2 linked regions of the Homo sapiens genome follow. The protein of the gene in region 1 interacts with the protein of each later gene in a pairwise test. Each region holds a gene or a part of one and is shown on either strand. Other genes may lie near its edges.

Region 1 (2,361 bases):
CTTGAGCCCAGGTGTTTGAGACCAGCCTGGGCAACATAGTGAGAGTCCATTGCTATAAAAAAAAATAAATATAGCCATGTGTGGTAGTGCACACCTGTAGTCCCAGCTACTTAGGAGGCTGAGGCAGGAGGATCGCTGGAGCCAGGGAGGTAGAGGCTGCAGTGAACCATGATCATACCACTGCACTCCAGCCTGACACAGAGCGAGGCCCTGTCTCAAAAAAAAAAAAAAAAAAAGGAAATTTGGACACACAGAGAGACACCAGGGACAGGGACGCTAGTTCATAGAGACCATGTGAGGACACTGAGAAGGTGGCCACCTGCAAGCTACGGACAGGGGCCTCAGGAGAAGTCAAACCTGCTGACACCTTGATCTTGGACTCCAGAACTGTGAGAAAATGAACTTCGGTGGTTTAAGCCTAGTCTGTGGCATTCTGTTATGGCAGCTCGAGTTAAGACCAGGGGACTGTGGGGCCAGTGATAGGGTCTGTGTAGTGAGTTATGGGGTCTGGCGGGGGGTCAGTGATAGGGGTTTGTGAGGTCAGAGGTGGGAGGTCTTTAGATGCTGATGGGGGTCTGGAATAAGTGAATGATGGTGGGATCTGTGGGGTCAGTCATAGCGCATCTCTGGGGTTAGTAATTAAGGATCTCTCAGTGTTAGAGTCAAGATCTTTTATTTCCTGATTTTAAAAATCGTCACCATCATAGACCTCCTGGCTTCTCTTGTATCTGTGTTCTAATGGCTCCCAGCAGTGCCTTCACACAGCCCCTTTATTCCCCTTCTTGTGCCTGCCCATGAGCCTGAGTGTGACAGATCAATTAGCTTTGTCCCTCCAAACTGTGGGAGCAGGACTAGACTCTTCTGGCAGGCAGAGAGCTCCTCCTCGGCCAGTGTTCGAGCCTGGTCCACCACTCCTCAGTTCTTCTTGCTCTTGGCTTTTGTGGCCTTGGCATCCAGCGTGCTCTGGGCATGAGTGAGGTGCTTCACAGCATCAAGCACAAGGACTCCAGGCAGCACCAGCCACAGGGCATTCATGAAGACAAAGTAAAACCAGAAGTAGAGAGGGTGGCCCAGCTCTCCGTGCTGGAATCCGTCGCGGTGCTCTGTCAGGAAGTAGAGCACATCCCCATAGATCTGGCCTGTGGGTGGCAGGAGGGGAAGGAGAAGCCCCAGTGAGGAAGGGGACACTTTCGCCAATTCTCTATTCCAAAGCACTTTCCAAGTCATCATTCAAGGTCTCAGAGCTAAGTATTCTGAAATCACAGAGCTGAAAATCTGAGAAATCAGAAAAGTGAGATTCCAGACACCAGAGAGCTGAGAATTTCAGAACTCAGGAGAGCTCACACCTTCAGATTTAAGGAAGTTCAAAATCCTCAAATCCAAGACAGCTTAGGATTCTGGGACTAAAGATAACTCATATCGCTAGAACTAAAGAAAGCTAACAATTTAATAACACAAGATGACTGAGGCCGGGCACAGTGGCTCACACCTGTAATCCCAGTACTTCGGGAGGCCAAGCCAGGAGGACTGTTTGAGCTCAGGAGCTTGAGACCAGCCTGGGCAACATGGCGAAACCCCATCTCTACTAAAAATACAAAAGTTAGCCAGGCACGGTGGCACATGCCTGTAGTCCCAGCTACTCAGGAGACTGAGGCAGGAAGATCGCTTGAGTCTGGGAGGTGGAGGTTGCAGTGAGCCGAGATCACACCATAGCACTCTGGCCTGGGTGACAGAGCCAGACCCTGTTTTAAAAAAAATATGACAGAATCTTACATGAAGGGATCTCAGAGCCCTGATCCTGGAGGTTCCAGGGGCTTCTTGCCACCCTGGGCCACCTCATGTAACCTTCACAGGAGACTTTGTGATGGAGAAGGAGGAGGAGGAAGAAAAATGAACCCTCCCCACCTGAGAGTGCAGGCTCAGAGAAGGGCATGACCTTTCCAGAGCCTCAGGGGGTTTGTCATTCAGTCTGACTTACCCCTGGAAGGGCACCGTTGAGAGATCCCACCCACAGGGATACATCTGTGTCTGTGGATCCCCCATCAACCCCTCTAGTGCCCAGTGCCCCTCTAGTGCCCTTTCCTTACCCACAGAGACCACAAGCTGTAGAATGAAGCGGAGGGGATGCTGGCGGAGAAAGGCGATCACCACCCACAGGCTGAGTGGTCCCCACAGGCAAGCTGTGATGGTTTCCATGCACACTGTGAAGTTGTCACCCCTGCAGGAGAAAGCATGAGGGGACACTGGTATCGGTGTGCTCTTCCTACAGGTTAGCCCATTAGTGCTCCCCAACTCACCACCCCCCGAAAACCAATGCCAGTCTCCATTGACAGAGGCAAACACTTACAGGATGTATCGGCT
Region 2 (3,656 bases), on another chromosome or scaffold:
ACAAGACCTGGACTTGGGGAGAGTCCAGGGAGAGACGGAAGGCTGCAAGCAGGGGACTCTTTCTGGGCCCTCAGGACGTGGAATCAAGTGAAGACCAAGAAGTAGACAAGTTTGCAGTTTATTGAGTAATGGCTGGCTTCACAGATGTTATCACTGGGGGCGGTTGATAGGGGGAACAGGAAAATGCTCTCAGAGGTTCCCACTGAAGCCCTTTCATCTGCCCTGCCCCACCCACCACTGAAGCCAGAGGTCATGGGAGTTGGGATCTAACTACACTCTGTGAACTTACCACCACCCATTCCATCCCCAAGCCCATATTTTATTTGGACTAGCCACTGATGCCCGGGCCCTTCCTCTTCCAGGGGGTGGGAGGGTGGAGGTGGGGACAGGACCAACCCTCAAGAAAGAAAAGAGGTTAAGGTGGGGGTTTTGCTGAATGTCTAAGAAATGTCAGTGGAACAGGCTGGGCACAGTGGCTCATGCTTGTAATCCCAGTGCTTTGGGAGGCCAAGGCAGGTGGATCACCTGAGGTCAGGAGTTCGAGACTAGCCTGGCCAACATGGTGAAACCCCCATCTCTGCTAAAAATACAAAACTAGCAAGATGTGGTAGCACACACCTGTAATTTCCACTACTCGGGAGACTGAGGCAAGAGAATCACTTGAACCCAGGAGGCAGAGGTTGCAGTGAGCCAAGATCGCACCATCGCACTCCAGCCTGGGCAAAATAGTGAAACTCCATTAAAAAAAAAAAAAAAAGTCAATGGAACACAAAATTCCCTGTCTTAACATTGTACATTCGGGGCCTAGCTGCCCTTGAGGATGTCCTAGTTACACCCTCTCTGATACCTGTGGAGTTTAAGCACCATTCCTACCGCTGTGTCCCTTGGGAGGGGGTGCAGTGGAAGCTCTTAAAGGGGAATGCTTGCTCTGCCTCTGTGGCTTTTTGTTTGGGAAAGGGAGTTGGGATTGGAGGATTTAGATTTGAGGTCATGATGTCAGAGCACACCAGGAACTCCCAAGGCTGTGCCTGAAGATGCCCACGCTGTCAAGTAGGGTGGTGGGGGAGACAGCGAGGGCAGTACAGGACACAGGCACTCCTTTGTCTGGTAGAGAGGAGGAGGGGAAATGGAGCTATTCCAGGATACAAGGGATGGCACTGAGGGATGCATAAGTCCCCTGCCTCCCTTGTCTCAACATGTTCTCCTCTGCCAGCCCAGTCAGCTTGGGGAGCTAGGTATCAGAAACCTGAAGGATTCAGCCCGCTTTGTCCTACTAGTGTCTATAAGTCTCTGTCCTGAGATCCTGGGGCTCCTCCTATTTCTAGAAGGGATGAGGTGCCATCAAAAATAACTTGGCTGGTGTAACAGTTTAGAGAAGGAAGTCACACCTGTAGCCTGGCTGGCAGGCAGGTGGACATGAGGCTGAGAAGGGAAGCCAGATGTCAGAACATACTAGGCTAGCATGCCTGCTTCTAGCTTTCAGGACCCAATGTACACATACACATGTGTATCATGTATGTATATGCATGGACACTCAAGCACAGGAGGGGTTATGTGCTCTGATCTTTGAAACCAGAGAAGGGAGGAAAAGCCTTATGGAGGTCCCTCCCCCACCCTAATAGGTTGCTACCCTCAATTGCCATCTGCCCACCAAGGCCCCTGCCCAGTGCTAGGCAGATAGCCAAGTGGTAGGGGTGACATGACTCCACTAAAGCAGCAGCCCAAGGAAGTGAGGGAGGGGACAGAGGCTGACCCTCCTCAAAGCCCCTTGTTGTAGTAGACCACTTCAACGCTGGGGTTTTGCTCATGGATCTGAGCTCTCAGCTCTGGTTCCAGGTTGCTTATGTGTATGGAGCTGCAATAGAACAGCACAGGCCAGTTAACGTCCCCTGAATCCAACCCCACTCAGGCCCAGGGATTGCCATCCCACCTCCTCCCAGGCTGAAAAATCCTCTCCTTCTACTGCCAGAAGGACTGGCTCACTGTCATTCCCCCACTCCCAGAATCAGTGGAGTGCCTGCCAGGCCTCCTCCTGAACACCCTGGAAGACCCTAGGTCAGCTGGTCCAGAGATGCAGAGTCCAATCCAGAGTCCCCCACCCAGCCCAGGGACAGCACTTACCTCTTCTGGGGGAATAGGGCACAGCACAGGGGGGTTGCAAATACCAGGCTGGGGGAGACAAGTGTTGGAAAGGTTTGTAAAGCTTTGGCCTTAGGGTGTTCCCTCCCTGCACCCCACCCCATCCTTGGAGATAGGCCCTAGGGGTGGAGATTGATAAAAGCTGAAAGGACCTTTTAGGAATAGTAAACCCAACCTGGACATCAGGTTCTGAGGAAAGAGAGCCCCACAACCAGTAAGTGGCAGAATCAGGAATTAAATGGGCATGAATCTCCTGGATGGCACCAAAAGGTACATTTCCATGGTTTCCTCTTATAGATGAAGACTGGAACCCCCTCACTAGGATCTTGACCTTCAAGGACAGGGACCACCCCGTAACACACAAAGTAGACCCTATAGTTGTTCCAAACACACACCCACTGAATGTATGAATGGATGATGTCTATAAACATCTTAAAGACAATCCATACCCACCCACATCCACCATGGACAAGGCACTCCCACACACCCCAGCTAACTCCTTGCACACTTACCAGAAGCCCACCAGTCCCACCTGCAGGGGTGCCCCCAGCCAGGGGCGGCGCTGTGGAGAGACAGAAAGACAATGGAACGGCTTGTGTCCCCTGCCTCACTGTCACCCCATTTCACCCACCATAGCTCTATCCCATCAGCCTTGCCTTGGAGCCCTTAGACCTGTGGCCGTTTTCTTTCTCCCAAGGCAATGACAGGGCTGGGACCTCCAGATCACGCCCTTCCACTCCAGCCAGGCCTGTCTGCTGATCACCCTCCCCGGCATCCCATGACCTCTCACCTCTCAGAATTGGTTGCCATGGCACTCCCTGGCCCTTTTTTTTCTTCCCTCACTTCCTCCAGGAGCTGATTTCTTCAGGAAACCTCCTGTGAACCTCCACTTACCTCTTCCCATCCCAGTGGCATGAATCTGACCCTTTCCAAGCACATCTCTTCCTCGGCACTCTTCTCAATTTGCTCTGGCCACAGGGACCACCAACCTGTTCCTCAAATGTGCAAGCCCCTCCTACTGCAGTGCCCTTGCACTGACTGTTTTCTGTACCCCAAACACTCTTCTCTGCGTTATTTGGCTCTCTCCTCATCCTTTGCGGCATTAAAGACCCCTTCTCTGATCATCCTATCTAAACAGCTCTCCCCCATGAATCTCAATTACACTACCCCCATTGCTTTCCTACAAAGCACATATTACACTTTCTAAGAATGTATTTATTGGGTGCCTCCTTGTTTATTGGTTTCTGCATCAGACTATAAACTTCATGAGGACAGGGGCCATAACCATTGTGTTCAGTGCCATCTCCTCAGCCCTAAAACATGCCTGGTGCATGGCACTCAATACATTTGTGAATAAATGATTCTGTGAATGAGCCAGAGCTTGTTCCTGTGCTTTGCTTTCGTGTCCTGTTCATGTCTGTGTGTGCGTGTTCACCCGTGTGTACCTCTCAGTATGGAGGCACTAGGGGGTAAAAGAATGAGCATGAGATCAAGCATGACTATGACAGTCCCCTTCT

The links. The genes of interacting proteins can lie anywhere in the genome.
Region 2: the proteins of EBP (region 1) and SFXN3 interact in binary tests that used the Homo sapiens proteins (3 or more experiments, as listed by UniProt).

What each region holds. Positions count from the first base shown.
Region 1 is NC_000023.11:48,527,012-48,529,372, reverse strand, and holds the end of EBP (3-beta-hydroxysteroid-Delta(8),Delta(7)-isomerase), read right to left. Parts: coding exon 2,348-2,361; intron 2,219-2,347; coding exon 2,088-2,218; intron 1,140-2,087; coding exon 916-1,139; 3' UTR 657-915; downstream 1-656. UniProt on the Homo sapiens protein: Isomerase that catalyzes the conversion of Delta(8)-sterols to their corresponding Delta(7)-isomers a catalytic step in the postlanosterol biosynthesis of cholesterol.
Region 2 is NC_000010.11:101,037,688-101,041,343, reverse strand, and holds the end of SFXN3 (sideroflexin-3), read right to left. Parts: coding exon of another isoform or gene 3,571-3,656; exon of another isoform or gene 2,974-3,570; intron 2,702-2,973; coding exon 2,652-2,701; intron 2,170-2,651; coding exon 2,122-2,169; intron 1,856-2,121; coding exon 1,759-1,855; 3' UTR 103-1,758; downstream 1-102. UniProt on the Homo sapiens protein: Mitochondrial serine transporter that mediates transport of serine into mitochondria, an important step of the one-carbon metabolism pathway.